Linked DNA regions of Homo sapiens: regions 2, 3, 4, 5, 6 and 7 are each reported to be linked to region 1. Evidence: microRNA targets listed by miRTarBase, many of them from high-throughput screens and not tested one by one. Region 1 holds a microRNA gene; each other region holds the end of a gene's coding sequence.

Evidence for each region. Region 1 holds the annotated microRNA hsa-miR-548g-5p (UGCAAAAGUAAUUGCAGUUUUUG, at 1,770-1,792, opposite strand). A microRNA usually pairs through its seed, bases 2 to 8, with sites in the 3' UTR of a target mRNA and lowers its output. Matches are read on the target gene's strand: a 7mer-m8 pairs with bases 2 to 8, a 7mer-A1 pairs with bases 2 to 7 and ends in A, and an 8mer does both.
Region 2: the mRNA of TRIM33 is a reported target of hsa-miR-548g-5p. The part of its 3' UTR that is shown has no 7-base or 8-base seed match.
Region 3: the mRNA of GMFB is a reported target of hsa-miR-548g-5p. Seed matches in the 3' UTR shown: 7mer-A1 at 695-701, 7mer-A1 at 2,206-2,212 and 7mer-A1 at 2,581-2,587.
Region 4: the mRNA of NFIB is a reported target of hsa-miR-548g-5p. Seed matches in the 3' UTR shown: 7mer-A1 at 2,431-2,437 and 8mer at 4,017-4,024.
Region 5: miRTarBase lists ELL2 as a target of hsa-miR-548g-5p. Seed matches in the 3' UTR shown: 8mer at 2,375-2,382.
Region 6: miRTarBase lists SFTPA1 as a target of hsa-miR-548g-5p. The part of its 3' UTR that is shown has no 7-base or 8-base seed match.
Region 7: miRTarBase lists CHIC1 as a target of hsa-miR-548g-5p. Seed matches in the 3' UTR shown: 7mer-A1 at 3,235-3,241.

The regions. Positions count from the first base shown.
Region 1 is chr21:18,684,366-18,688,674 of GRCh38, forward strand. MIR548X (microRNA 548x) reads right to left here and starts at 1,799; the gene lies at 1,725-1,799. The region is part of intron 2 of MIR548XHG (MIR548X host gene); the gene reads right to left.
Region 2 is chr1:114,393,778-114,398,086 of GRCh38, reverse strand. It overlaps TRIM33 (tripartite motif containing 33), which reads left to right. Exons shown (of 20, transcript NM_015906.4): 19 at 97-147; 20 at 227-4,309. The coding sequence ends at 439. Among named protein-coding and RNA genes, the nearest start is that of TRIM33, 120 kb to the left of the region's middle.
Region 3 is chr14:54,474,233-54,478,541 of GRCh38, reverse strand. It overlaps GMFB (glia maturation factor beta), which reads left to right. Exons shown (of 7, transcript NM_004124.3): 7 at 383-4,057. The coding sequence ends at 454. Among named protein-coding and RNA genes, the nearest start is that of GMFB, 13 kb to the left of the region's middle.
Region 4 is chr9:14,084,446-14,088,754 of GRCh38, reverse strand. It overlaps NFIB (nuclear factor I B), which reads left to right. Exons shown (of 11, transcript NM_001190737.2): 11 at 429-4,309. The coding sequence ends at 446. Among named protein-coding and RNA genes, the nearest start is that of LINC00583, 160 kb to the right of the region's middle.
Region 5 is chr5:95,885,276-95,889,584 of GRCh38, reverse strand. It overlaps ELL2 (elongation factor for RNA polymerase II 2), which reads left to right. Exons shown (of 12, transcript NM_012081.6): 11 at 455-499; 12 at 598-4,309. The coding sequence ends at 714. Among named protein-coding and RNA genes, the nearest start is that of LINC01554, 35 kb to the right of the region's middle.
Region 6 is chr10:79,613,398-79,617,706 of GRCh38, forward strand. It overlaps SFTPA1 (surfactant protein A1), which reads left to right. Exons shown (of 6, transcript NM_005411.5): 6 at 340-2,046. The coding sequence ends at 716. Among named protein-coding and RNA genes, the nearest start is that of SFTPA1, 4.6 kb to the left of the region's middle.
Region 7 is chrX:73,680,129-73,684,437 of GRCh38, reverse strand. CHIC1 (cysteine rich hydrophobic domain 1) reads right to left here. Exons shown (of 6, transcript NM_001039840.4): 6 at 1-3,483. The coding sequence ends at 3,433. Among named protein-coding and RNA genes, the nearest start is that of CHIC1, 120 kb to the right of the region's middle.

The DNA of each region.
Region 1 (4,309 bases):
ATAGTGTATAGAAAATCAAAGATAACTATGTTCACAGATTTCTCATTAGAAAGTATGCCAGGACGGGGCATGGTGGCTCATGCCTGAAATCCCAGCACTTTGGGAGGCCAAGACAGGAGGAATGCTTGACCCCAGGTGTTTGCGACCAGCCTGGCCAATATAGTGAGTCCCAGTCTCTAAAAAAAAAAAAAAAAAAAAAAAAAATTATATATATAGCCAGGCATTGTGGTTTGCGCCTGTAGTCTTGGTTGCTCAGGAGGCTGAGGTGGGAGGATGGCTTGAGTGTGAGAGGTCAAGCAGTGAGCTGTGTTCATGATGCTGCCCTTCAGCCTGTCTGAGATTGAGACTCTGTCTCAAAAAAAAAAAAAAAGAAAGAAAGAAGAGAAAAGAAAAGAAAGCAAAAAGAAAGAAAAAAAAGGAAACTATGCCAGGCAGTAGACAATAAAATATCTTTGAAGTAGGAAGGAAAAATAACCATCAATCTAGAATTTTATATAGAGTAAAATATCTACAACAAATCAAGGTAAAACTGATACTTTTCCCAACAACAAAAGTTAGAGGAATTTATCACTAACTAAATTGAACTAGATGAACTATTACAGTTTTTAAGCAAGGAAGCTGTTATTTGATGGAAGCTAAGGTATACATAATCAAACAATGATTACCAATGTAGAAGTTTCCTTTCATTTTCTGAAACCGTTTTTGGGACATAACACGCTGCTTATACTGTGTGTTTATATGGTACAGTATTATGTTAAAATAAACTAATAACATAAGGATATATATTGTGAACACAAAACAACCATAAAAATAGTTATAGTTGATTAACAGTATTTAAAATGAAATACAAAAATAATAAAAGACTGACAAAGAGCAAGTAAAAAGCAACAACAAAAATAGATGGAATAAGTAATAAGCAAGGACAAAAAAAAAGAACTATTGTTCCTTCTTTCTTTTCCTTTCCTTCTGTGTCACTTTCAGCATAGGTAGTTAAATAATGCAGTAAAGTAACAGAGAAAATAAATTATGTAATAGGGTTCCATGGTTGTTTGTGTTTATTGGAAAGTCACTGCTTGTTTGCAATTGAATTGAGTTCTGGTTTTGAATGGAAAGTGTAGCCTCTTGGAGTTGTCAACCTTGCTCACTCATTTATAGACATAAAATGCTTATCTTGTACTCAGAGTCTTGCTGAACTTTCAAGCACTGTGGGTCCACAAGAATTCTGCGTTCACGTGGCATCACAAACGCTGTATGTGAATAGAACAGTAAGAAACTGAACATGTATATCACAGACATCTCTGCTCACACTTGTACTCAAGTGTCCCATCATACTGCACTTTTAAAACACAGAGGTAAAATTATTTAAAAATTTAAGGCAGTAATAAGAGAGTGTTAAATCAAAAACAGGGCACTTCTGAGCATGAAATCTTGTATGACTGTACAAGGTACAGTGCATGAAGCTGGCCCTACATGAACAAAACGAATTATTTCCTTCTAAGTTCTAGAACAAAGTAGAGATATCCAGTCTAACCACTGAAATTCAATATTGCATCAACATTCTTGCCAATGCAATATGAGAAAGATAAAAATTAATACAACACATGCCATTAGTAACAACGTTAAAAACATGAACACAGGAATAAACTTAGCATAATGTATGCCATACCTGTTTACTGAAATCTTCAAAACTTTGCTGAGAAAAATAAAACAAGATCGAAATATTAAGATTGGTGTGAAAGTAATTGCAGTTTTTACGATTGAAAGTAACGCAAAAACTGCAATTACTTTTGCACTAACCTAATATATTGCAATGTATAATGTGATTACAGATTGGAAGGCTTAATGTTGTTATGATAGTATCTCTCCCCAAATTGATCTATATGTTCAATGCATATTTAAAAAACAATTGTAGCAAAGTTCTTTGTAGAAATTGTTAAGCTAATTCTAAATTTTATATGGAAATCCAAAGGACATATTATATACAAAATGATTTCTAGGAAGAAGAACAAAATTAGATGAGCAGCACCTTTTTCTTCCAAGACTCCCTATATACTCCTTTTAGGCACCAGTCATAGAGGTAGTATGGCTGAGGTTTACAACTGGATGTATAGATAATGGAACAGAATAGAAAATCCAGAAACATGTCATTTTTTATGTGCTTAAATTTTTGAAAGTATTTCCATGGTTATTCAATGAGAAAAATTATAGTCTTTTAAACAATTTTATCCCAGAGGGAATGTAAGTATATTTAAAGACAAAAAAGAAACCTTAACTTATAACATGTCTGCACATGCTCATATACAAGAGGTATACAAGAATAGATGGAAGAGGAGTAAGATAAAAATACCAATTAAGGCCTTTGGACTAACAAGTGATGGAGTCTTTTTTTCCTGCCACTAACACTTTTCGTATAACTTTTTCCCCTAGAAATTGTAACTAGCCACAATTTGAAAATTAGAGATTGACAGTGAAGTGTATTAGTCAGTTTTCATACTGCTGATAAAGACATACCCAAGACTGTGTACTTTATAAAAAAGAAGAGGTTTAATGGACTCACAGTTCCAGGTGGCTAGGGAGGACTCACGAACATGGAGAAGGCTAAAGGCACGTCTTACATGGTGGCAGACAAGAGAGAATGTAGACAGACAAGTCTACATTGTCTTGGCAGACAAGTGAAAGAGGAAATAAATCTTCAGATCTCGTGAGACTTATTCACTAACAGGAGAACAGTATAGGAGAAACCATCTCCATGATTCAATTATCTGCCATGAGTCCCTCCCACAACACGTGAGAATTATGGGAGCTACAATTCAAGATGAGATTTGGGTGGGGATGCAGTCAAACCATATTAGTAAGTCTCCCCTGCATTATGGTGTACTGTTAGTGTGTCACTCATATCATATCAGATTCCTTAAACATTTGTTTGCATAAAGTCCCCATGTAATTCTATTCCCCATAGTAAGTACCTGCTTCTCTAGCACCATGTACTATGTACTATGCACAAGTAGCCAGAATCAGATTTGTCTACAGAATTGGAGAACTATTATCTCCGAACTTTTGTTCTCCTGCTAACAGCTCTTAAACATTGAGAGATGTGTGTAGAGGCTTAAATACTCCAAGCGCTTTTTCTCTAATCAGGAATAGACTATTTTTGAAGGATTGAGTAAAAGCTGTTCTTTGCAGGACTTTTCTATTATCATACTCATTTTTGGACTCCTCTCATGTCCTGTCTCATTTCCCCATGTGGTTATCAACTTGTCTAGGGATAATGTAAAATAACACATATCATGCTGGTCTCAGGACAAAACTCCATTTATTACAGTTGGTGCAAAACAGTCAGATTTTATGCCTATGATGCTGGTATAATTATTATACCATGATATTGACCCATTTCACTCCAAAACCCCTTCTAGTTTGTATAATAATTTATACAGTCATCATTTTATAATGTGAAATAGTCACAACCACAACCACATTCTACCCAGGAGAGAGAGTGTAGAAAAATCTATGATAATTTAGGAAAGAAAGAGTCAGACAAAGCAGGTGCTCTTGAAGTTTAAAAACAAAACACATTTTGAACATGCAAGAAACTTTGTGAATACTGTTTGCGGAAGCCTCCTTGACAACATTATGAGGGGATGAACTCCAGGTGGAAAGGAGTAATTGCTATTTAACAAATAAATGAAAGAAAGGCTAAAGTTGACAGAATAGATTATATATTGTATATGCTCTGATAATGTGGAAATAATTCATCTAACACAAAACGGAACAGATGGCTTTGATAAGAAGATAAAAAATAAAGTTAGTTTTCTGATTACATCATCGTAATTGCTAGATGTCAAAGGGTATTATTTAAAGCTACAAATCAAATAGTAAAAGATCAAGTCTATTTAAGGAAACAATGAAAAACACTCGAAAGTTATTGATATCTATTAAATGTGGGTGATGGTATCCTGGAAAGGGGAAAGGAAAACTATACAACTTCATGTTCATGGTGTTTAAAAGAATTGAAGAAAAAGGATATTTTACAAACGTAAAATCATTCATGCAATTTCTAGAGCAAAATTATAAACTTCCCTAAATATTAAAAATACACCAAAAGAAAAAATAAAAATAGACACCCATACTGAATATTTCATACATTGTGATGGTTAGTTTTTGTGTGTCAACTTGCCTAGGCTATGGTATCCACTTCTGTTAAACACTAATCTAAATACACCAGTCTGGATGTTGCTGTCTGATGAGGTTAACATTGATGATCAGTAGACCTTAAATGAAACAGATATCCTCCATAACGTGGGTGAGTCTC
Region 2 (4,309 bases), not on the chromosome of region 1:
ATGGCTGACTTTTCGTCGCCAATCCTATGCAGTCTCATAACTTTAGAAAGGATTATAATTTCCCTTTTTTTTTTTTGACTCTGGTATCCTTTTTAGATGATGAAAGTTGTTCAAGTTTATGCAGACACACAAGAGATTAATTTGAAGGTAAGCTTTTCAGACCATGCAAACTTGGTGAAGGAATATGCATTACCAATAGGTGAATATTCCTATCTTTTGCTTGCAGGCTGATTCAGAAGTAGCTCAGGCAGGGAAAGCAGTTGCATTGTACTTTGAAGATAAACTCACAGAGATCTACTCAGACAGGACCTTCGCACCTTTGCCAGAGTTTGAGCAGGAAGAGGATGATGGTGAGGTAACTGAGGACTCTGATGAAGACTTTATACAGCCCCGCAGAAAACGCCTAAAGTCAGATGAGAGACCAGTACATATAAAGTAAAATGACATGGATTTAAATCAATTGTTTAAAAAAAAAAAAACGAAAAAAAAAAAAAAAACACAAAAAACCCAGAAAACTTTTAAGTGTTGCTGGAATATCCTGCCTACAGTGGGCACCTCCTTGAAGAAGCTGATAGCTTTTACACAGTATTAGATTGAAATAATGGACAGAAACACATTCTTGTCAAGAAAGGGGGAGAGAAGTCTGTTTGCAAGTTTCAAAGCAAAAAGCAAAAGTGAAATGATTTGAGGATTTCTGTTCTAATGGAGATGATTCTCTGATTGTTAGAAATGGCAAATATTGATGATTGTGTGCTATTGATTGGTGCAGGATACTTGGTATACGAGTAAATACTTGAGACTCGTGTCACTTGATAAATTTTCTTTTTGGACTAGGTCGCACAGTTATTAAAACAACTTTTAACCCTCCCCCTTCACACACATACATATCAGGTTGTTTTCTAGTTAAAAACCCAAGTAGCTCAGATTCTACTTTAATGTCAGTGCAGATTTGCATTGAATCATGCCATTATGTTTTTTCTCATTTTTATGCTGTTGGGTCTTAGTTTTTAAATTGATATAAAGAACTCAGCAATGGTTTTATTTTCTACTCATACTTAGGGTTTAGGAAACACTACCACTAGTTATCATTTAATCAACTTCAATGGTCTACTGAAACAAAAATGGTAACTTTTCATTAGTGGATTATTTAGAGTTATAGTAGTTGTTTCCAGAAAACACTTCCTCACAATTGTACTTCCCAATCAAATCATGTGATCATACAGTTATTCCCATGAAAGGCAGAATGTTTGTTTCAAAATTAATCTAGTTTTCTGTACATTTAAATTTGAGAAGGTGACAACTGGCTCTTTTCCAGTCTTCCTTCATGTCAGTTTTCTGATAGACCACTATTGGCAAACAGTATCTGTCAACTACCAAATGTGTAAAATTTTCTGTATTTCACTTTGTCTTATTTGTAAATAGTGAACTAAAACTTTTGGCAGATCAGCAACATTTGCTGAGCCTGTTTTTTAAGCTAATGTGTATTCTTACTAATGTTCCTATCAAGAATGGATTTGTAATATATGCTGTCTATTTCTAATGTTCACATTCATATTTTGAGGTTCTATCTTATTTTAATAGAGAACAGACTTCTCAAAAAATCTTCAGAAGCAGCTTATTATTGAAATATCGAAATATTGAAATAAACCCGGTGGGGTTAGATTACTCATCTGTCCACCAAGTGGGACATTTGCATGGACTGGGGGCTTAAAGGACTTAGAAGAGACCTGTAAGTAAATCCTGAAAATGAGCCAATCCCCACTTGAATGGTTACTGGAGTAAACCCACCTTTACCACCCCAATTACAGCACCCGAGGCCGATAAACCAACTTGGCTCTGGTTCATTTTTCTTTTCTTCATTTGTGATGCTCAGATTCAAAATGTGTGTTCTACACTGTTACAGGCTTCTCTTTTGTTTGATTAAAGATTTTAGTCCTACTTTTGTATGGACACATTAGAATATTCAGAGACCAAAATAGAAGAATTTGCTGTTAGATATTTTTCAGAAGTCAGCAGATTTGTGGCAAATCATTTATTTGCCTTTTTAAAAATTCATTTAAGCAGTTCAGAGAGTAGACTACTCAGAAAATTATTTCACGTAATTGTCTAAGAGGTCAATATTTTTTAATGCATATTGAATCAAATAAAGTGCTCTAAAGAAATTATTATACAAATTCCTTTGGGTTGTTTTTCTTTTCTTAACAAGGGGTGGGGGTAAACAGGAATATGATTCAGGCTTTCTGGTTGTGTATTTAAAGAGTATTGATTTTATTATTACTATTGATTTACTTTATTCCTGGCTTCCTTTTCACTTTTCTTTCAATTTTTAAAAAATAATTTAAGCCGTTGAAAATATACCAAACTGTTGAAACATTTTACTCAAATTTTAAATTCCTAAAAATGTTTTTTAATAAGAGGGAGAAAATTATTTAAAAATACTTATGCCTATGCCAATTTCCCTCTTTTTTCACAAAATCCATGATTTCAGTTTGTAAGTAGACATATATCTAAGGGCACATTTTTGGAAAGTGAGGAATAGCAGCAGTATAACTTCATTTTGTCAGGCCTTTGAGTTCTAATATTTTGTATTGCTCTTCAAATGGATCCTTTTAAAAAAATTGTAGATAATGAGTCATAAATAGATTCTGCCAACTGAGGGGAGAAACATTTTAAGTAAATATTTTTCAGTATTTGGGGCCTTAAAAAATAATTGTGTTTCCTTAAAATTACATGTTAGATAGAGTTTTTAGGTTTTTTTGGTTTTAAGATTGGTTAAAGCAATTTAAAAGCCACTTTTTTGTCAACATTTAATAGCCTCCACTTCTGTTAAGATAATGTATACTGCTGAGGAATTACTATTAATAGCTATCAACATACCACCATTAAATTAAGGTATTCACTTTAGATTTTTTATTAAAGCTTTTTTCTTGCACACTGATCGTTGTGTTTCTAAGCTGATTTTTTCAGCTCTAATATACCTATGGTTAAAAAGTATAAAAACTTAAATTGATATTTAGATATATGTTTTCCTATTAGTTTATGTTTTAAAAAGACAAAATTGTATCTGTCAGTCCCTGAAGGCAGTTTGTTTTTATACTCTCTCACATTTGTATTTGTTTTTTAAATGGCAGTATTTTAGAAGATTTGGAGAAAAGTCCACATAATAATGTTTTCTTAAAAGCTTTTAAAGTTTTTGCTGTACTTCAATTTACTTCTTCCATCAGAAAACTAAGAACAAAGTGTTGCTCAGTCTGTTCCGCTGACCTAAATTTGTGTTTTCAGCACTTGGCTCAGCCAATTCACTGAGTGAAGGAATTGCTTTATGAGGCAAAGCATGTGAAAGTTCTAAAGTATGGTTAGATTGTAGGTCGTGCTCTATATGGAAACATCAAACCATTACTACAGAGAAATGATAAGGCATTGGATCCACTATTGAAATTATTATTTTTGGATCAACAAGTTGGTACTTTCTGACTTCTGTATCTTAACATAAGGGAATTTTAGGTAATGCTAAGTCAGTTGTCTCATTTTTTGTGATAAGTTTTGGAATTTTTAGTTAATTGAAATAAATAATGCTTTTAAATAGAAGTAAAAGGTTTATAAGTGTGCAAATTGTAGATTTATCAATTACCTCAGCAGGTATCCTGCCATGTAATTATTAGTGATTAGTGTTAATAAGATAATAGATTCAGGTCTTCCAACTATGCCCTTGGATTGTGGCCTACTGTATGTTATTAAATGGTCTCTTACTATCCAAAATGGGAGTAGATGCTGTGGCCCCGTCTCCCTTGGCTTTTACGTCCCATATCCACCCCCATTCATGTACAACATGTGAAATATAAAAATCTCATTTCTTGTCAAAATCAGCACTGCTTATTTGCATACTCAGCATCGGATCAGTGAGTAGTTTTATAAAAAATCCACGCACCCAACTCCCTTAGTTAAAACAGATTCTTAATTCATACCATGAATTCTTAATTTCTGTACCATCTATGTTAATGATCTGCTGAAGGTGACTCAAGATTTTCAAGGTGTAATACAGTTTGATCATGTACCGGACCTGGATATTTAATTTTTTTTCCCTCACAGTTAATCTCCTCCTTGATAAAGCAATAACACTGCTTTGAGTCTGTTGCCTAATAGCATGTCAGAATCCTCTCCTGGATGGTGATTTTATAGGAAAGTTTGTATGCATATCACCCAGTCTATCTTTTAAAAATTAAGAAATTTAAATGTATGCTGGAAGTAATGACACTATATTGTGGCATTTTATTTTAAAAATTGGGGAAAGTTGCATATTTTTTTAAAA
Region 3 (4,309 bases), not on the chromosome of region 1:
CTCAGTTCCTAACTAGATTGATTTTAGTTGTGTTTACTTGGGATGTCTTCTAGGAGATAAGATTTACAGAACTGCTCTTTTAGACTATTTGTAGATTTGTGCTTTTGGGAGAGTTTTGGTTTCATGTTGTCTTGATTGCTGTACTTTGGTAACTGAGTACTTAGCATTTAAAAGAAGTGAAGTTCTACCTAAAAGGTATATCTCATTTACACAGGTTAAGTCATGAACAATATGAAAGGAAGCAGAATTTGGTATTTAATACTCAAATATATAACCAAAAATAGTTTGGTGTATAATACTCAAATATATTTTAAAAAATTCAAATATTTGACTTTTTTTTTGGAGTGTCAAAGTATGACCCAAGTTTTTTTTTTTTTTAAAGGTATTTGAAATAAGAAATACCGAAGACCTAACTGAAGAATGGTTACGTGAGAAACTTGGATTTTTTCACTAATGTGAACTTCTGTGTTTCTAAAGTATTTATGTATTAACCTGACCATACTGGAATCAGACATAAATACTTATTTATGCCTAAAAATGCACTGTTACTTACAGTTTGTTTCCTGCAGTAAAGAAAAATTCTTCATTTGTGCAAAATTTGAACAAAGAGGAAATCATCTTCATAGTAATGAAACTTTGTAAAGTGTTTCCTTATATTGGTAATTGTTAGGTGGACTACTTTTCTCCAGGGACTTTTTGCACTCTTGTGACTAATTTCTATAACTTATGGTTCGGAATTTGTTACTATTTACAGACACCATTGGAAAGTGGATATATTAGATTGTGAGAGACAACAGTTGCCTCCTTTTGACAAATACTGGATATTAGCAGTTTATTTATGAAAATAGCGTATTATCACTTGTCAAATCATTGAAATTCATTTGGGGTCAAAGACTTGAGTGACCCAGTATTGAGCCATGAATAATTTAGTGTAACCTGTATTACAAGTACATTGATGAATTCTGTATCTTCTTTGGTTTCCTGTATCTTTTTAATCAAGTCTAGAAACTATGTTCATCAGTCACTCATTTTTAAGGTCGGGAGTTAGATTTTATGATAGAATTATGACTGTTAGCTTTTCTCCTTATAGCATCTTAGTCTTAGAAATTGGTGGGTTGTAATAATCAAGGGCTTCATTCCTTTTATGTCATTTCTAGACAGTTTTGAATCTAGGTTAATAACACTTTATTTATAAAGCACCTCAATGTCCTGTGAACACTAATTATTTTAAATGTGTTAATACTGTGCCTTTGATTTGTTAGCTTTAAAGTTAGTTTAAGACTTTTACACTGCCAGTATTCCACATTTGGTGAAATTAATACTTTTTTAAAGGGTCCAAATAAAATAATTTTCTAATGTGTATATCTGAAATTTGTAATAAAATCAACTTCATATTTTAAAAATTCCAACTATCTGCTTGCATTGGTGAATATATGGCAGTCGAGAGTTATAATTTTGGGTATACTTGTGGTTAGTTTTGTGCCATAGGAAAAAATTATCTTAAAACTTTGGCCATAGTTAATAACATTAACACTTCAATAGCAATCACATCTTATATCCTAAATGTCAGAAGATATTCTGAACTGGATGCCTGAATAGTTAACTAAACCAGTCTTGTTAGATGATGGTACTCTTGGCATAAAGCGAGGATTCTGATATTTGGCATACTTGTAAAAACAAATACATAAGTAACCATTGAACATTAATTTGATAATAGGTCTAGAGACTCTAAAAACTAACCAAACTTGGTGAGTGTATTCTTATATTAAGAATATCTTAGTCATCTCAAAACTAGCAAAATTTAAATTTTGGCATGTTTTCCATTCATATGTTCTTTGCATTTTATTTTTGAGGTTTCTGTGAGAAGTAAAGATAGTTGGAATTTTTGCGATATTGAATAGAACATCTTCTGTTCCCAACACTGTTTGGCTTCACTAATTTAGAAGTCAGGAAGCAATAGAAAGTTGGAGATGAGGAAGTGCTAGAGTAGGTGTTTGTTTTGGTTCTTGGAGGGAAAAGATTCTTTATTCCAATTTCCAGAGAGAAGAGAAAACTCACCCAGGAAGTTTAAAAATTCTTTAAACAGGTATTTTGATATTGGAGAATAACATGCATATAATTCTGTAGGAATGCACATGTAATCCAAGTGAGTGGAGAGTGTTTTTAATGTTTTTGAATGAAGGAAATGAGGTTTTGTTTCACCTGTTTTGCAGCAGTAAGAGAAACTAGTGCTGCAAGAATGTATTTTTTAATGAAGTTCCTTATTTTGTCTTGCATGTTTTAGTTTTGCTTATTTTTAAATTTGGAGGTCCTCCATAATGTCAGATAATATTGACCTGCCATACGTTAGCACTCTTAGTTCCGCTACTGTCTTTAACAGGAGCAAAGAGCTGTGATAAACCATGCTTTTTTGAGCTTGTCTGACTCCTAATTAATAACATGTTTTTGGCAAGACAACAGATTGAGGTTAGAGGATCAGTAGGACATTTTTATTCCATCTGTCCTATGGGGAAATTTACAAATCCCGTGCTCTAAAATGTTCTCAAACATTTATATAGATTTCCCTTTCATCTTACTAAATTTTGCATTGTTCTTTTCAAGTATGTTTCGTATTTACTGTCTTTTTTTCTGCCATTTCCCAAATAATAACTCCAGATTTCATAATTCCAGTTTTTACATTCCGTTATCTTTCTGGTACAACCATTCCCATTCAGCCTTAAATCTGAGTCCTTTTTAGCAGCAACTTTTTTCCTGGGATCCTCCTTCGTGGTCTTCTAAGTCAGTGTTAGTTTTGAAATTTTTGGCCCTGCATAAGTTCTGCATAGCATCTAATGTCAAAATAGAACCAACTGGTAATCACAGTATTATTTAGTGTGGTTTCCATGACAACAAAAATACATACGAAGAAAACTTCTCAGGTTACTATGCTGAAATTCCAAAATGTCTGAGTTTTGAATAGTGATCACTTTGTTCTGGTATTGACGCAATTATATTAGGAAAAAAGTTGGTTGACTGTTTTTGTTTAATTGACTTCTAAAATGTTCAAATTGTCTAGTTCTAAAAGTTTACTAAATGCCTAGTGCAGTTAAACATACTCTTGTTTAAGTGTGTGTTGCTAAATTTTTTACTGTCATTACTAAATAATCTGTGTGGCAAAATGTGTGTCAGCACTTTTCCCTCCTTTTTTATCTCCTATTTTCAGGAGTCAAATGTAGCCATAAACTGTATCCTTGTCTGACACTTTAGCTAAAAATTTCCAGTTAGGGGAGTTTATTGCCAAATTAAATTTGGCTGTTCCCCCCAACCCATATAGATATTAAGGAAGGTGTACTTAAAAAATGTTTGGACTGCTTTTAAAACCTGAGCAATGTCATTAATCCATATGTGGACTAGTGATGAATAGATATTTTCATAAGAGTTTAAATGCTGATATTTGGTGGAAGTAGAGAGTAACTCATATTCTATCAATTCAAGTATTCTTACTATGGTTGCTTTCCCTATTTGTTCAATAGACTGATAATACTGGAATTTATAGAGTTTGAGCCATTACAACTTTTGTGAGGATGTGTTTCAAACATTTCTGGACAAATCTTATTTTGTATTTCTGGAAGAATGTAGTAATCTTCTAGACCGCTTAAAACCAATGCTCCCAAGCTGAATATTCTTGAGAAATTTGTTTTTATTATGCCATTTGACATTTCAAATCAGTGCTCATATACAGTAAACTTGTGATAGAAATTGTATTTTATTGCTTTTTGGATTATAATTCATATAAATATAATTACTTGAATATTGTTTGAGATCATTAACATGCCAGGGCAGTTCCCACTGATTTAGATGGTCCAAGATAATCTCATTCAGGAGGCTTGAAACATTAATGGTTTAGTCTTGTGAATTTTAACAGTTCTCTGTCATCGTTTAACAAAACCAACAACTGACACAACTCCTTAAGCTGTGGTTTCAGTCTCTGCTAGTTCATATTGCATGTTTATTTTGGACAGTCTTTTGTTAAGCATGGTGCTTGTACTGGTTTAAATAAAATGTTAACATTAAAAGACTTCCAGCTTTTCTTTTTTTACTCACCTCTTTCCCCCTTTGGAGTTACTGGTATGTACCTGGCTAGATTTGTGTGAGCCATAAACTTTATCTGGACAAACTGAGAGGCAAAATAAACAAGTCATTTGGCAGCTTGGTGGAAGGAGAAGATAATCAAGTTATAAAAATTTCTAAAACTTGGTCTGATGCTAAAATGTAGAAAATGTCAGTAAACAGTAGTAGGGACAGACAGAGCTATTTCAAACAATGAACG
Region 4 (4,309 bases), not on the chromosome of region 1:
CTTGTGAATTAAAGGTAAAATAAGATTAGAATGTAACTGGCAAAGTATATTGGTACCAACAGATTGCTGCTTTTCTTTTTCTTTTTTTTCCTGTACAAAAAAGAATGATATTGCATTTATATTGATTAATGTAAAATATTTTAGAATATCCTCAATCGGTTAGAATTCAATAATTGTTTATATATCTTACTCTGGATTTTTCTGCCTCACTTTAGTCTTAATTTTCATTTAAAAAATAGACTATAGAGTTTAGATAGGTGTAACATGTATAATTTGGCACATTTATCTCATATTAGACTGTAATTTTGAAAATAGGGATAGCAATAATTTGATGCATCTGGAATTTATATTTCTCATATTGTTGTAGATTTTAACATTGTATTTTTTTCTTTTTTCTTCCCTCCCTGCTGCCTCTCTCCTCTCAACAGTCCTGGTACCTGGGCTAGCTTGGTTCCTTTCCAAGTGTCAAATAGGACACCCATCTTACCGGCCAATGTCCAAAATTACGGTTTGAACATAATTGGAGAACCTTTCCTTCAAGCAGAAACAAGCAACTGAGGGAAAAAGAAACACAACAATAGTTTAAGAAATTTTTTTTTTAAATAAAAAAAAAGGAAAAGAGGAAGACTGGACAAAACAACACAAAGGCAGAAAGGAAAGAAACTGAAGAAAGAAGATAATAGACCAGCAATTGCAGCACTTACAATCACTAATTCCCTTAAGGTTGAAACTGTAATGACATAAAAAGGGTCGATGATATTTCACTGATGGTAGATCGCAGCCCCTGCAACGTAGCCTTTGTTACATGAAGTCCGCTGGGAAATAGATGTTCTGTCTCTATGACAATATATTTTAACTGACTTTCTAGATGCCTTAATATTTGCATGATAAGCTAGTTTTATTGGTTTAGTATTCTTGTTGTTTACGCATGGAATCACTATTCCTGGTTATCTCACCAACGAAGGCTAGGAGGCGGCGTCAGAGGTGCTGGGTGACAGAGCCATGAGCCAGCCATTTTATAAGCACTCTGATTTCTAAAAGTTAAAAAAAATATATGAAATCTCTGTAGCCTTTAGTTATCAGTACAGATTTATTAAATTTCGGCCCTTAACCCAGCCTTTTCCAGTGTGTAACCCAGTTTGAAATCTTAAAAAAAGAAAAAATGAAAAAAAAAGGAAAAAAAGAAAAAAGGAAAAAAACAGTTTGAACACAAAGGCTCTATGGAAGAAATGCCTCTATGTAGGTGAAGTGTTCTCTCTGCATGCAACAGTAAAAATTAATATAATATTTTCCCCACAAAAGAAACACTTAACAGAGGCAAGTGCAATTTATAAATTTATATCTAAAGGGGAATCATGATTATAAGTCCTTCAGCCCTTGGACTCTAAATTGAGGGGATTAAAAAGAATTTAAAATAATTTTGAACGAATTTATTTTCCCCTCAGTTTTTGAGGGCATTAAAAAGGCATTAAATCAAGACAAATCATGTGCTTGAGAAAAATAAAATTAATGAAAACACAGCACTTATGTTGGTTTAGCTGCAGCCTCCTTGGAGGTAGAATTTATTTATTTAAAATTACTGGTTGCATCAAGAACCCATAGGGTGTACAAAAGGTTCTATAAAATCTGCATTATAGAGACAAAGAGGCAGGCAAATCCATGTCACAAGGGTAAAGCTTACAGTTTACAAACTGGGAACGCCAGGGTGTAGGATATAAAAACGCACTCTTGAGAAAACAAATGTAATCAGGGTGCTGAAAACTTGCATGGTGCTTTCAGACATTAGCCTTGTTCAACAAATTTCTTGTATTGACAGATCCATAGTGTGCATGGGCAGACACATTTTGCCTCTATGTCTCTTAAAATTTTAATTAAAAATACTCTTTCCAGTAATCCTAATTTGCACGAAGATATAATGTCCACATTACGTGCCTTGCCTTGAAATCTAAAAAACAAAAAACAAAAAAAAAAAAACAAAAAAATACAACAAAGTGACATCACTACACTTGTTTTGCTGCATTTATTATCATTTTAAATCTTTACCATTTTTATGACAAAATATTTTGTACTCCAGACGAAGAAAAATGTGTGACATCATGGATTTTTTAGACAGTTATACCTTTATCTCACATTTATAAAGCATATCATGGCTGTGTATAGTTGCCGCTTAAAAATTGTAATCGACCAGCAATATTTTCAGTATTTTGGTGTTTTTTTCTATTAACCTTTCATGTTTTTCATCTTCCAATTAATATTTGGGGGGGAGGGGTTTCAAATTTATACGAATTATGCAATACCAAGTTTTGCCTATGTAGGTAGTGCTTTTAGCTGTATTGGTTATTATAGGTAAGTACACAGATTTAAAAAAAAAATAATGTATGCTTTTTTGTTTGTTTGTTTGTTTTAATTGACCAAAGTGGGTACTGCTATTTTTGCAGTGTGATGAGGTCCTTTTGTGTACTGAGAGATGGACAGGGGATTTTTTTTAATATACATATATATATATTCTGGGGTGGGTGGGAGGATTTTTAACACTTTGCAGTGTAGCTGTGAAGCAGTGCACCCTGAGATGGGCCTGGGCTGCAAAGCGACTGTTCTGCCTACTGTGACAAACTTCAACTTACACAGGTTCCCCTCTCTAACTTCCCACCTGGGTTGCAAGCTGAACTCATTACTGGTTTTCATAACAACACAATAGTAAGAACAAGCAAACACAACAAATTCTCCTGGAGGCAGACTTGGCTTAAAAAGGCAGACTTGGCTTGGTGATAGTTTTTCTTGAAAGTTCCAGATCCACAGTGGAGAGTGAGCCTGTCTCATATTTGGCAAAAATATTTGTTGAAATGTCCACATAGGGGATGTTGGATGTTTAACACTTTTGAGAGTTTAACACATGAATATTCTTTCTCCTAGAAAACACATTAGACCTGTTGGAGGGAGTCTCCCGTATTCCTTTTCTGCCACTTTTCGTCCCCATTTCATTTCATTAATGATAGGATATGATTTACCTGTGACTTACTACTTCAAATGGATGGCAGTGCACTTGGATTTTTTTTTAATATCCAGAAGATTGAACAGAGGGTTGCTATTGTTGAATGTATTTGGACTGATAGATTAAAATCAAAGTTCAATTTTTAAGGAACAAAAAAGTAAATCCTGTTTTCATTTTATCTCCCCTTTTAAAACTGAGAACCAGAGCAGAAGGGAAATATAGAATTTTAAGCAATTAATCTTCCTGTGGATGAATTAAACCCATTAGATGCTGATGGGATTTTTTTAAGGAATGGTACCTTAACTATATATTTGATTTCGTTTCCCCTGAGGGCTAGAGGCTGAATGGAGGCTGGTTTTATTTTGCCTTTCCCTCACCGCCCAGTCCCATTGAGTGTATTCATTACTAGAAGGAAAATCTTTCAGAATTGGTGACACATGGTAGGCTGTCTTAAGGAGTCCCCTGGCCCCCTTCCCCTAGGCCATGGCCTAATAAAATAAACTGTCAATTGTTCTCACAGCATATCATTTAATAATGAATACTTTAGAACAATGCTTATGGGCTGGAGAATTGTATTTGATTAGCCCATTCAGTTTGATAGCCCAAATGCTGAACAGCACAGCGGGATCCTAGCAGTGCAAGTTCAAAAGTAAGTCCAATCATTTCTGTGATACTCGCCCTGGTAGCAAACAGATCATCTCAGCCAAGCTCTTCATGTATCTTTGACCTATTAGGTGAACAAATGAACCTCACAGGACACACAGTATTTTTTAAAGGCAGACTCGCTCTCTTTTTTGCCAGTGAGCAGTTCTAGCTAACCAAGTTACACACTGTGGGTATTCCTGCCTGCCTCTTGAATACAAAGGCCTAGTTCAAGTGTTGCTTTTTTTATTTCAAATCAATTTTTTCTTCTTTCCTTTTTGAGATAAAACTATTAAAAGTACTACTATATATATAAAATCTCAAATCAACTTTTCGGCCTCCTCCTCGTGTACCAGGAAGTATATTCTGACGAAGGGCCCCACTTTTGCAGGTCTTGCACGCCCCTCCCTTACCCAGAACTGCAGAGCTTCAGGATGGCGAAGGTCACCCAAGGGCATGAGTAGGGAGTGGTGTCTCCAACCATCAGTTCCGTGGCACTGTTCAGCCTTTGTGTGCTGCCCTGCCACCCACCACTCACAGTGCCTCTGAAGCGTGTTACCCCTGGAGTGACGTGAGCATTTGAGGCTTGTCTAAGGAAAAAAATAAAAGGCAGTGAAGGAGACTGTACATAAAGACATGGCAAAAATCTTAATTATAGCAATATAGTTATCGGGT
Region 5 (4,309 bases), not on the chromosome of region 1:
TCTCTTTTAAACTAATGGTATCAAGCTGTCCATATTGTTCAGCACTTTGCTTTCTTCACTAAACAATATAATGCATCTTAGAGAATTTTTTTATATTGGTACATAAAACACTTTGGCATGTTTTAATGGCCTCTTAGTATCCTTTGTATAGATTGATGGACATTTCAATTTTGTTTACTGTCTTTTGCTTTACAAACAGCACTACAGTGAATAATCTTGTATATGTGTCATTCACTGGGGAGCAAGTGTGTCCATAGGATAAGTAGAATTGCTGAGTCGATTTTGCATTTACTATTTTGATAGCTGTTGCCACATTGCCTTCCATAAAGATTGTTTCAAGTTACATTCCCACAGTCAATATTTCCTATACTCTTGCTGAATGCATGTTATCTATTTGTATTGCCACACACAAAAGAAGTTGTTCTCTTCTGATTTCTAATATTTAATTTTGTAGAATGTTCATGAAGAAGTCTTACAAGAATATCAGAAGATAAAGCAGGTAGGTATCATCACTGTTGATTTTCTGACCTGTGGTTGAAAAATGTTGTAAATTCTGCAATCTCATTCCTCTTTTTTTTTTTTTTTTTTCATCTGCAGTCTAGTCCCAATTACCATGAAGAAAAATACAGATGTGAATATCTTCATAACAAGCTGGCTCACATCAAAAGGCTAATAGGTGAATTTGACCAACAGCAAGCAGAGTCATGGTCCTAGAACTCTGCTTGGACCAGAAGATGTGAATAAACTTAAGCTTATTTATTTAAAATTCCAAATGAGTTGCTCTAGATTCTAAAAAGGTGAAACTTTGGCTGTTGAAAGTTTCAGTATTAGTAAACTTGAGTTACTTTTTCTTTTCCATTTTACTTTGCTTCCCTGCATTTCGAAGCTGCTCTTTCTGGTCCTCCCCACCACCCCACCCCCAAGACTTGTGTTTGTTAATAGAAATAATTTTTTTAGGTATTGGGGATCCATTGTCTATATTTCAAATCAGTTTTTTTTCCTCAAAAACTTGTGTTTGTTATTAGAAATGATTTTTTAGATATTGGGGATCCAGTGTCCACACTTAAAAGTTGTATGTGTTTAAAAAACAACAACAGTAATGTGCAAGGTGAAATGCTTTTGGATAAACGTAAGCCTATTTTCTGACGTTTCTTAATGCAAACTCTTTGCCTTAAATGGTAGAATATTTAGAAATTTGCACAAAATTAAAAAAATAAACATTGTCTTGGAGGGTTAAAAAATAGAAAGGTGTATGTGTATAGATTCACATACACATATGTATATACAGGCTGACTTGATCTAGAACATTAAATCCGCCCTGCAAGTTAACCCCCCATTGCAATGGTTGCCTTAAGGTGTTTGCTAGTTGTGTACATAGTGTGGTTAATCATTAGCTACACTGCTTCCCACTTGATTAGAGCAATGGGAAGCATACTGTGGCCTACCAGCATCTGGAAGTGTGTGCTCGATCTGTATGTGTGCAGAGGTGGTGTGGATGTGAGCGTGCATGAAGGAAAAAAAGCTGCTACTCCTAGTAGGCCAAACGCTCAGGTTAAACAACTGACGAGTGTTACTGTAGGGTGTTTTTTTGTTTTTTTGTTTTTTTTCTTCTATCAAATTGCTACTTTTGTTGTGGAAGACAAAAGCATTTCCATTTCAACGAGTTTGTCAGCTTTATTAATGTTGGGCAAAAATTGATATGTCATGAAAATGAAACAGATCTATAGTTTTGGGACAAAATTATAAAATGAAATGTGTAGGTAACCTATTTATATACTGCTATAAAGTATTTTTTGAAGAGAGATATGCAAAGAAGCTATTACCTACATAAGAGGTATATTTAAAGATTTTTTTTTTCATCCTGGTGCCAGGAATATAAAAAAGAGTGGATATATTTAACCATAACATACTGTGATTCATCAAACAGCACAAACTTTCATTTCATGGAGTTTATCTGTTGACATTGATTTAAACTGTCACTTGTTTTATCATGTGGGAACATAAGTTATGTGGTCAAAAATATAAGGATTTTGAATTAATGTTGATTCAAGTTGTATTGTCTTATTGTATTGTCTTTTCAAAGTGCTGCCAGTTGAAAAGGGAAGCATTATGTTTACAAATCTGTTTTGAAATGTTTGCCAAAATTTTGGTAGTGTCTTTAATAAAGATGTTTGTCTCCAGCATCCAGAAAAATAAATGAATAACTTTGTTGTGTATCACTGTAAACCAGAAAAATGTTGGTTATCTAGAAAACTTGAGAGAGCATGTAGATTAACTTTTCTCTTTGGAGTTCTAAAACATTAACTGGAAAGATTAGATAATATACTAAATGTATACAGAAGTATACAGACTATACAAAGACTGAAACAAGTCCCTTTTGCACTACAACTCTATAACATTACCGCAGAAATTTTGGTTCTATGTAGCATGGACCTCCTAAGGAATTCTGTTTCTTTTAGCATTGAGATCCCTGGTGCTCTTTTTTTACCTCAGAATTGGTACAATCATTATTAAACGTTAATTTATTTCAAACTTTTTAATTGAAAAAAGGAAAGGGAAACTTAATTGGGGATAAATTCAGGCATCATATTATTATGATAGAGTCTCCTGAGTGGTTCGTCTATAGGTAATGAACTCATTGGTGTTATTTCTTGGACATCTTGGCCTTTTAATCAAAGACTGTGTGCTGCTATTTGCTATGAGCAAGGTTTCTCAAAAGCAAAAGGTGCTTGGACCATTTGGATCACCTGAGTTAGAATCTCTAGGTATAGGGCCCAAGTATCTGCATTTTCACAGGTTTCTTGTAGGTGACTTTCTGCAAGCTAAAGTATGAGAACCATTGGCTTGGATGTAGTTCTAAACTTTTAGGTCTGTAAATCTTGAAATCTTGAACTGAAGGTCAACTATTGGCTTTTTTTTTTTTTTAATGTCCATCATGTCAGCAGGTGCAAATCACTTTTCCCCTTTGCATGATCTGAGGCACCTCCTCAGTTGTTTCACTGCCAACTCTTGTTTCAGAACCTGTTTACAAACAAGCCTTCCAGTTGGTGAATGGTTAGCCATTGGAGCTCCTACCCTGTACATCAGCACATCTTCTGGTTTACAAGTTGGGTAACAATGAAAGCTGGAGATGCTAAATGGAAATCCAGCATTGCATACCCTTAGACCTGATCACATACCAGTAAAAGCCTTAATTTAGATGTTAGTTGTATGTGTTGGACAGATCCTTGCAAAAGTGTGTCTGTCTATTAGTTGTAAATTTGAAAATTATAAATCTCTGAATCTGCTACTATCCAAGTTTCATCCCTTTTGAAGATGAGGCATGAGCCTATTAAAATATTTATAATCATTTTTCGTCCCCTACTGCAAGACTTTTAGATTCTTACAAATGATTACTACAGGAATAGTGGCCACTTAATGTCAGTTACTCCGGTGGAAGAATTTATCTAGTTTTTTTTCTTTTCTTTTTTGGAAGGATGGTGTGAAAAATAGCAAGATTAGAGAATGAGTTGTATAGTTTTTTCTATCACATTTCATCTAAAATGATTTGAAGGACTTTTGAAGATTTTTACCAACATCCTTAAATCAACTCCAGGTTGGATGAACAACTGATTTAAAACAAACTAAGAGAACATTAACTAGATGTGGGCTTTTTAAAATATATAGGTATTGCATTTCCTACCTTGTTATTTATTCCACTTTGAATACTTTAGAGGGCTTAACTTTCAACTCTTTAAGGTAGTAATGGATAGTTTTATACTTGTTCTCACAAAATTGTTATGGTCAGTTTATATCATTGCTCCATGCATTGATTATAAAAATTCAGTATTAATTTTTTCTGATCTTATAAGCTTTATAGGAGTTTTCTTTTCTCTTATAAAGTGTTTCACCTTATGTAAAACAAATGCCTGCTTGCATATTGGAAGATGTTGAAATTAGTTTTAGACAAAAGTGGTCCATCAATTCAGACACTCTGCTTGGATGCCTTACCCTTTTCATTAGTGCATTCTTTGCTTCTGAAACTTGGCAGAAACTCGTTAGCCAGTCCACTGCCTTTCTGACAATGTGTGGAGTCACGTATGCTTGGTATATGCCTTTACTACTTTTAAAGTTCTACAGTTTATTACTTGCCCAAGTGTTACTAAATCCTTTTCTTATGTGTACTGGATGGAGAAAAAATTATAGCCAGCACTTTGAGAGGAAAGTTTTCAGAAACAATATTAACTGGCACTACTAACTGAAGGCCACAGGAGATGCTATCAATGTTATTTGTAATCTGAAGATTGAACAAGGCTGTGAGGCTCATTTC
Region 6 (4,309 bases), not on the chromosome of region 1:
TGCTTTTCTGATGTCTTTGAATGGCCCAGAGGAGACAGAAGCAGACACAATTCACTCCCCATTTCATAGGAAAGCAAGTTCTCCACCTGCCTTGCTTTCCACTGAATTCCAGGAAATTGCACCATTTCTGGCAATAAGTAATTGTTACTTAGGTGAATGAATAAATGGAGGAGAGTCTAAAAGTGAATTTAGAAAACTGCAATTGGAAGAGGAAGAGAAGACACAGAGAGAGGCAGAGATGGAGAGACTGGGGAGAATCTGGTAGCAGAGACCCCAGGTGAGGGAGGTGGCTTAGAGACAAAGTGGTCAGTGGCCTGACCCGGACTCCTCTGCTCTCAGCCCTCAGTCTGCAGGGCTCCATAATGACAGTAGGAGAGAAGGTCTTCTCCAGCAATGGGCAGTCCATCACTTTTGATGCCATTCAGGAGGCATGTGCCAGAGCAGGCGGCCGCATTGCTGTCCCAAGGAATCCAGAGGAAAATGAGGCCATTGCAAGCTTCGTGAAGAAGTACAACACATATGCCTATGTAGGCCTGACTGAGGGTCCCAGCCCTGGAGACTTCCGCTACTCAGACGGGACCCCTGTAAACTACACCAACTGGTACCGAGGGGAGCCCGCAGGTCGGGGAAAAGAGCAGTGTGTGGAGATGTACACAGATGGGCAGTGGAATGACAGGAACTGCCTGTACTCCCGACTGACCATCTGTGAGTTCTGAGAGGCATTTAGGCCATGGGACAGGGAGGACGCTCTCTGGCCTTCGGCCTCCATCCTGAGGCTCCACTTGGTCTGTGAGATGCTAGAACTCCCTTTCAACAGAATTCACTTGTGGCTATTGGGACTGGAGGCACCCTTAGCCACTTCATTCCTCTGATGGGCCCTGACTCTTCCCCATAATCACTGACCAGCCTTGACACTCCCCTTGCAAACTCTCCCAGCACTGCACCCCAGGCAGCCACTCTTAGCCTTGGCCTTCGACATGAGATGGAGCCCTCCTTATTCCCCATCTGGTCCAGTTCCTTCACTTACAGATGGCAGCAGTGAGGTCTTGGGGTAGAAGGACCCTCCAAAGTCACACAAAGTGCCTGCCTCCTGGTCCCCTCAGCTCTCTCTCTGCAACCCAGTGCCATCAGGATGAGCAATCCTGGCCAAGCATAATGACAGAGAGAGGCAGACTTCGGGGAAGCCCTGACTGTGCAGAGCTAAGGACACAGTGGAGATTCTCTGGCACTCTGAGGTCTCTGTGGCAGGCCTGGTCAGGCTCTCCATGAGGTTAGAAGGCCAGGTAGTGTTCCAGCAGGGTGGTGGCCAAGCCAACCCCATGATTGATGTGTACGATTCACTCCTTTGAGTCTTTGAATGGCAACTCAGCCCCCTGACCTGAAGACAGCCAGCCTAGGCCTCTAGGGTGACCTAGAGCCGCCTTCAGATGTGACCCGAGTAACTTTCAACTGATGAACAAATCTGCACCCTACTTCAGATTTCAGTGGGCATTCACACCACCCCCCACACCACTGGCTCTGCTTTCTCCTTTCATTAATCCATTCACCCAGATATTTCATTAAAATTATCACGTGCCAGGTCTTAGGATATGTCGTGGGGTGGGCAAGGTAATCAGTGACAGTTGAAGATTTTTTTTTCCCAGAGCTTATGTCTTCATCTGTGAAATGGGAATAAGATACTTGTTGCTGTCACAGTTATTACCATCCCCCCAGCTACCAAAATTACTACCAGAACTGTTACTATACACAGAGGCTATTGACTGAGCACCTATCATTTGCCAAGAACCTTGACAAGCACTTCTAATACAGCATATTATGTACTATTCAATCTTTACACAATGTCACGGGACCAGTATTGTTTCCTCATTTTTTATAAGGACACTGAAGCTTGGAGGAGTTAAATGTTTTGAGTATTATTCCAGAGAGCAAGTGGCAGAGGCTGGATCCAAACCCATCTTCCTGGACCTGAAGCTTATGCTTCCAGCCACCCCACTCCTGAGCTGAATAAAGATGATTTAAGCTTAATAAATCGTGAATGTGTTCACATGAGTTTCCATAGCTTTGGTTCCAAGAAATATCACATTTCTGTATTTTTGTAAATCAAATGAACTCTGACTCTGAGCCCCCACTTGCCTGAAGATTGGAAAATTCAATCTCAGGATGTGCTTTCTTTGTTTGGTAGGAGGAGCCACCTCCTCTCCTCACTATGATGCTGCAGAGGGATGGGGAGCTACAGCCACCATTTGGAAGAACATACGGGCTTCCTGAGTCCACATGGTCCATTTGTGGGTGGGAATACCATGTCTTCTGTCCCCTACTCAGCCACCTGAATGATTTCTGCAGCCCAGCAGTGATGGTGGCACTCAGGGCTCAGTCCCAGGCCTTAGTGAGCCATCCTAGTCTCAGGTCTGCATGGAATGGGACCACACTCTCATGACCCAGGGCTGCGCAGGAATGAGACAATGTCTCCAATTGCTTGAGGAGGCAGCTACATATGTGTCCCACCTCCCACTTCTCCCCCTATAACACCTGTGAACACTCTTTCTCAGTGCATTTATTGCTTTTCTTGGGCGGAAGGAAGCTCAGAAAACCAATGAGAATAAGAGGAAATTTTTCTCAGTCTTTTATGAGTGATAATTTTTAATCTGATCACCATTCCATATGTGCTTAGGACCCAGCACAGAAATTATTGAGCCTTCTTCAAAATTAAGAAAAAAAGCAAGTAGAAGCATGTACAGATGTATCTCGACTTATGATGGGGTGACATCCCAATAATCACATTGCAGGATGAGAATATATTAAGTGGAAAATGCATTTAATACACCTAACCTACCAAACATCATAGCTGAGCCTGGAGTAACTTAAACATGCCCAGAAAACTTATGTTAGCCTGCAGTTGGGCAAAATCATCTAACACAAGGCTGATTTTATAATGAGGTGTTGACTGTCTCATGAAATTTATGGAATGCTGGACTGAAACTGAATGAATAATTCAGTTATATGTGTACTTGAAGTATGGCTTCTACTGGATTTGCATTGCTTTTAAGTCATTGCAAAGTGGAAAAATTGTAAGTCGGACAGTTGTAAATCCAGGACAGTCTACATTCCCAATTATATAGATAAATACTTTAAGCCTCTGAAAATTTGCATCTATTGAGATAATCATGTGGTTTTTGTCTTTAGTTCTGTTTATGTGATGAATCACTTTTATTGATTTGCGTATGTGGAACCAAGCTTGCATCCTAGGGATGAAGTTTACTTGATTGTGGTGGATAAGCTTTTTGATGTGTCACTTGATTCGGTTTGCCAGTATTTTGTTAAGGATTTTTGCATCAATGTTCATCAAGAATATTGGCCTGAAGTTTTCTTTTTTGTTGTATCTGCCAGGTTTTGGTATCAAAATGATGCTAGCCTTACAGAATGAGTTAAGGAGGAGTTGCTTCTTTTCAATTTTTTGGAATAGTTTTAGTAGGAATGGTACCAACTCTTCTTTGTACCTCTGGTAGAATTAAGCTGTGACTCCATCTGGTCCTGGGATTTTTTTGGTGGGCAGGCTATTTATTACTGCCTCAACTTCAGAACTCATTATTTGTCTATTCAGGGATTCCATTTCTTCCTGATTCTTTCTTGGGAGGGCGTATATGTCCAGGGCATATTTATCCATTTCTTCTAGATTTTCTAGTTTATGTGCACAGAGGTGTTTATAGTATTCTCTGATGGTTGTTTGTATTTCGTGGGGTCAGTGGTGATATCCCCCTTATCATTTCTGATTGTGTCTATTTGAATCTTCTCTTTTCTTCTTTATTAGTCTAGCTAGTGATCTATCTATTTTATTATTTTTTTCAAAAATCCACCTCCAGGATTTGTTGATATTTTTAAGGTTTTTCGTGTCTCTGTGTCCTTCGATTCTGCTCTGATCTTGGTTATTTCTTTTCTTCTGCTAGCTTTGGGGTTTATTTGCTCTTAGTTCTCTAGTTCTTTTAGTTGTGATATTAGGTTATTAACTTTCTAACTTTTTGATATGGGCATTTAGTGCTATAAATTTCCCTCTTAACATTGCTTTAGCTGTGTCCCAGGGATTCTGGCATGTTGTGTCTTTGTTCTCATTAGTTTCAAAGAAGTTCTTGATGTTTGCCTTAATTTCATTGTTTACCCAAGAGTCATACAAGAGCAGGTTTTTCAATTTCTATGTAGTTGTGTGGTTTTGAGTGAACTTCTTCATCTCGAGTTCTAATTTGATTGCATTATTGTCTGAGAGACTGTTTGTTATTATGTCAGTTCTTTTTCATTTGTTGAGTGTTTTACTTCC
Region 7 (4,309 bases), not on the chromosome of region 1:
AAGCTTTCATACATTTGTTCAAAGGCTTACACGTTTTTAAACTTTATTCAAATTTCATCAAAAATGGTAGATAAAACAGTTTGATTGCTCAGATATTAGTGTTTACAGGCCATAATAATATGAATAGTATGTACATTAAATACTTAAATGGGTTTTGGTGGGGCTTTAATCAAAGACAACTGTCCTTCCAGAACTAAATTAAATTACATGTTTACTAGCATTAGAATTATACTGTTTTTTTAAGTGACTGATAGTCCGGTTCTGTAATATTTTGTCACTAATATATCATGATTGGGGAAAAGGAAGGAAAGAAGCTTTACATAATAAATAAAAGATAATACACTAGTAAAGTATTCTTAGACCTAGTTGAAAAGGATGATTTCTAATCTAATCATCTACCAATTCATTTATTATGCTTCCTTACACGTAATGTGTTATCTTTGTTCTAAAAAGACAAGGCACTTCTCCATCTTCTTCTAAAGTTTTACTACAGTGGTCTCTTTCCTAAATTAGCATTAGGAGGGAACAAAGAGTGGAGACATATCTGGGATGGAGTTAATAAATCTGTAAATAACACTTGCCCATATTAGTTATTAGGAATAAACATGTTATTGGCTTTTAGGACAAGCTTAAAAATAGCCAGTTGGACAAATTTATGAAGCCAGAATCTTGGGCCAAATGAGAAACATTGGAACATTAATTTTAAAAAACAATTTTAGCTTGTAATCTTAAAGCCTTGTGAGATTTATATACTTTGGCAAATACATGTTTTGCTCTGGAAACTATCACAAGTTTCATAAAGGAATATTATGTAACAAAGAAATTCAAAATTACTTTCTTCAGTCTAAAAACAACTTTCACAAAAGTATGTTACTAACCTAATGGAAAATTACAAGTATGTTCTATCCTAAGCATAACAGAAAAAAGGCTCCATGGGGGAGGAATTAATCACCAGTGTGCTGTGTCATTTTAGCATTCACTGCAACCAATTTCACTGAAAACAAAGCAACCCCGCCCAAACATTACAAAATACTCAATTGCTAATCAGCCCCCTGCAAAGGAAAACAGTTTGAAAAAGTAGTCATACAAGAGAGGAAAAAAATTGGTATTTTTTTGGGTAGTTGAAGAAACTAAGATGAGTCAACCAGCATAGCGAACAATAAAATAATAAACTCGAGTGATTAGAATAGGCTTTAAAATTAAGTTTACACATGCTGACAAGTGGTTTTTGTGACAAATGCTACTGTAACTTGTATTATACTGTGTCATTTCCAGATATACTGTATTCCCATTCTCAATAATTGTTTCATGGAAACAATTCACCACTTCATGCTGTTCTTTGAGCAAAACCAAGTGTGATTTATACATGGCAGAAAAAGTTCCTATGACCATCATATGATCAAATTCTAAGGTTATAGAAAAAAATAAGATTTCTAAGGATCAACACTTAAAAGCAATTTTCTATCAGTGAAAATGAGATATTTTGTATTATGCTGAAAATCGATTTTGGTATTAAAATATCACAGTTTGAAGCATAAATTTGATAACATTAGCTGGAACATAAACCTCAGATACAATTTTTCCCGACCTTAGCTACAAAACAAGACATTTGGTATACATTTTCAGAGGCTTCTACCTTGTCTATAAAAATACACCTTCAATTTTGCAGCAGGCAAACACATAATATTTGCAGGCATACACATTACTAAAGGTTAGAGATTTGGGGTGACTGAGTGGCACAGAGGTAATGGGGCACAGAGGAAGGTGGAAAAGTGTTTGTGCAAACAATTATAATCACATATAAAATAGTGTCTTCTTTTTCCTCTCTTTTTTAAACTGGTCAAGGACTGTGGATTTCAAATTAGGCATAAATTTTAAGAGTGGCTTAAAAAGGCTTGACCTTCTATGAAGAAATGATTGTTCACTTCACTGAGATGAATCTTGCCTAAAAGGTTTACTAAAAGCAGTAAGAGTAAGATGACAAAATATTACTGAGCCCTAGACACTTTTATTTTTAGCACTATGAATTACAAATAATGCCTACAAACAGGCATACATTTGCAGTTGAATTAATGTGATATAAAGCTTTCATTATACTGAATTTTCAAATTCTAGTTGTGTGGTGCTAGCAATCATTTTAATTGTGAAGAAAAATAGAGAAATATGGACCAAATAAATGTTACATATGTGCTGAATTTATAAACTAAAATACTTTTGTCTAAACACTTGTCTTTCCTCATTAATGTTTTATAAAGGATCATCAAAAACAGAATTGAGAATTTTTTTTCAATTATGAATCAGCTGCTATATACTCTTTAGCTACAGCTTCTCAAATAGTTCTCTCTCTTTCTCAAACTAGAATATCAGAACTGCAGAAAGGTGTTAGTGGCTTTCAAGAGGGTCTAGATACCTTCTGAAGATGTCTGAAATCTCAAAATACTCCTTAAAAGTCATAATTGTGTGTATTTTCAAAGGAAGAAAAGGCTAATAAATGCAGGATAGTGAGACTGTGAAATGTGTCAGATGTCAAATAGTTTTTTTGTGGGAAGGAGTAGACAACAAAATGGAAATTATTAAACGAAATGGAAAAATAAAGGTCATGGTTTCAGGTGCAATACAGAATATCTGAGATAATAATTTCAATTTTAGTCCACTTGTTACAAAGGGCAACCTTGCCCTACACCTGAAATTCTTAACATACTCATTATGGCCTTGCCATAAAACAGCATGTTAGCAGTTTCTACATTCAAAGGGATGCTTGCAAACTTCATTCATATTAAAATCTATGTAAAATTGTTGGCAATACAATAAGAGTAATGTTACATTATGTAAACCATGGCATACCACATTTTACATTATGCAAAGAGGCAATATTTACAAGTCTTTAGGAGTTTAAATATTTTATCCACTAACATAAGTGATAAAGCAAAGTGCAGGACAAAACCAGTGCCATTAATTGCATGTCCTTTAAAAGCATGTCCTTTAAAAGCAGAGTAAAACCATTTCTAAAAGCTACCAAAAGCTTATTTAAGTTTGTCCAGTAAGGGATTACAGAGCATCAAGTAGCCTAGAAAAATGATGCGAGTTTAGAAACAATGAGTATGAAAATTATAAGGCAGCATGCTCAGAACAAGTTTTTGTTTTTTAAACACCAACACTGATGATTTATCTTTAATGGCAACTATCTATATATGTATATGCACACACGCATGTGTGTGTATTTAAAATTGAGAGTGCAAAACACAAGCCTCATTGAAAGACAAAAAAGATGTGCAAATTTTCTTCATAAACCAACACAAAAGAGCGAGAAGAATATTCTACCATTATAAAGAATAAGTTGAACACAGCAAAGGAGACCATCTTCATTCCAAATCTACAAGGCACTAAGGGTAGGAAATGACAGGTAACACAGAAGTGACTGGATAAAACTCCTCAGTCAGGTCGGAATATGGGATATTTTGGTAAGAATTCTATTAGTATTACCTGCAAAATAAAAACAAGAATATATTTACAAAATATTTTTCATTTAATATAACTTATAAATAACCCAGAAAGTCTATAATCATTTTTCATAGGACAATATTTCAATCCTGAACCATATAAAGTAAGTGAAATACATGAAAAAAATATGTAAAGAACTTAAACCACAAGTTGTTATTAGATTGGCAATTTAAAAATTAAGCTGGCAAACAAAACTACTTATTGTAGCTAACAGATTTTACTATCTGATTTACAATAACTATTTGTCTAGGTTAACAGGAGCAAACTCCATTAAATTATATTATGTTTTTCCCCCACACCCCTATCTCTTTGTTAGCAAAGTAGAGATTAAAAAAATGCTATACAGATTAAAAAATGCCTTTATATTAGATTTATATATTTTTCAATTAAAGAAACTGATATTAGTTGGAGATTACTATCGTTCACAAGTTGTGAAAAATTAATGTGCCCAAATGGATTGAGTAAAACATATTAATTACAAAAGGTTTGAAAACATAATTTTAAAAAACTCGGATATTTTTGAATGTTTTATCTATAATGAATTTTAGACTTGTGGTCATATGCATATTTTCCCCAAAATTATTCAAAGTGTAGAGAGATACCATAATAATCCTTACTTATGAAACACACATGGAATGTTTATTATTAAATATGTACTACATATTGGAAGTTTGGATAAATGTAATATTTTCAATGTTAATTATGCTAAATTGATCACATTGGCTATATGTGAATTTATGTCTTATGACTAAGATTGTATAGCTTTCAGTTAAAACAAAAATTAGAACCTACAGTTTCTTCACTAAAA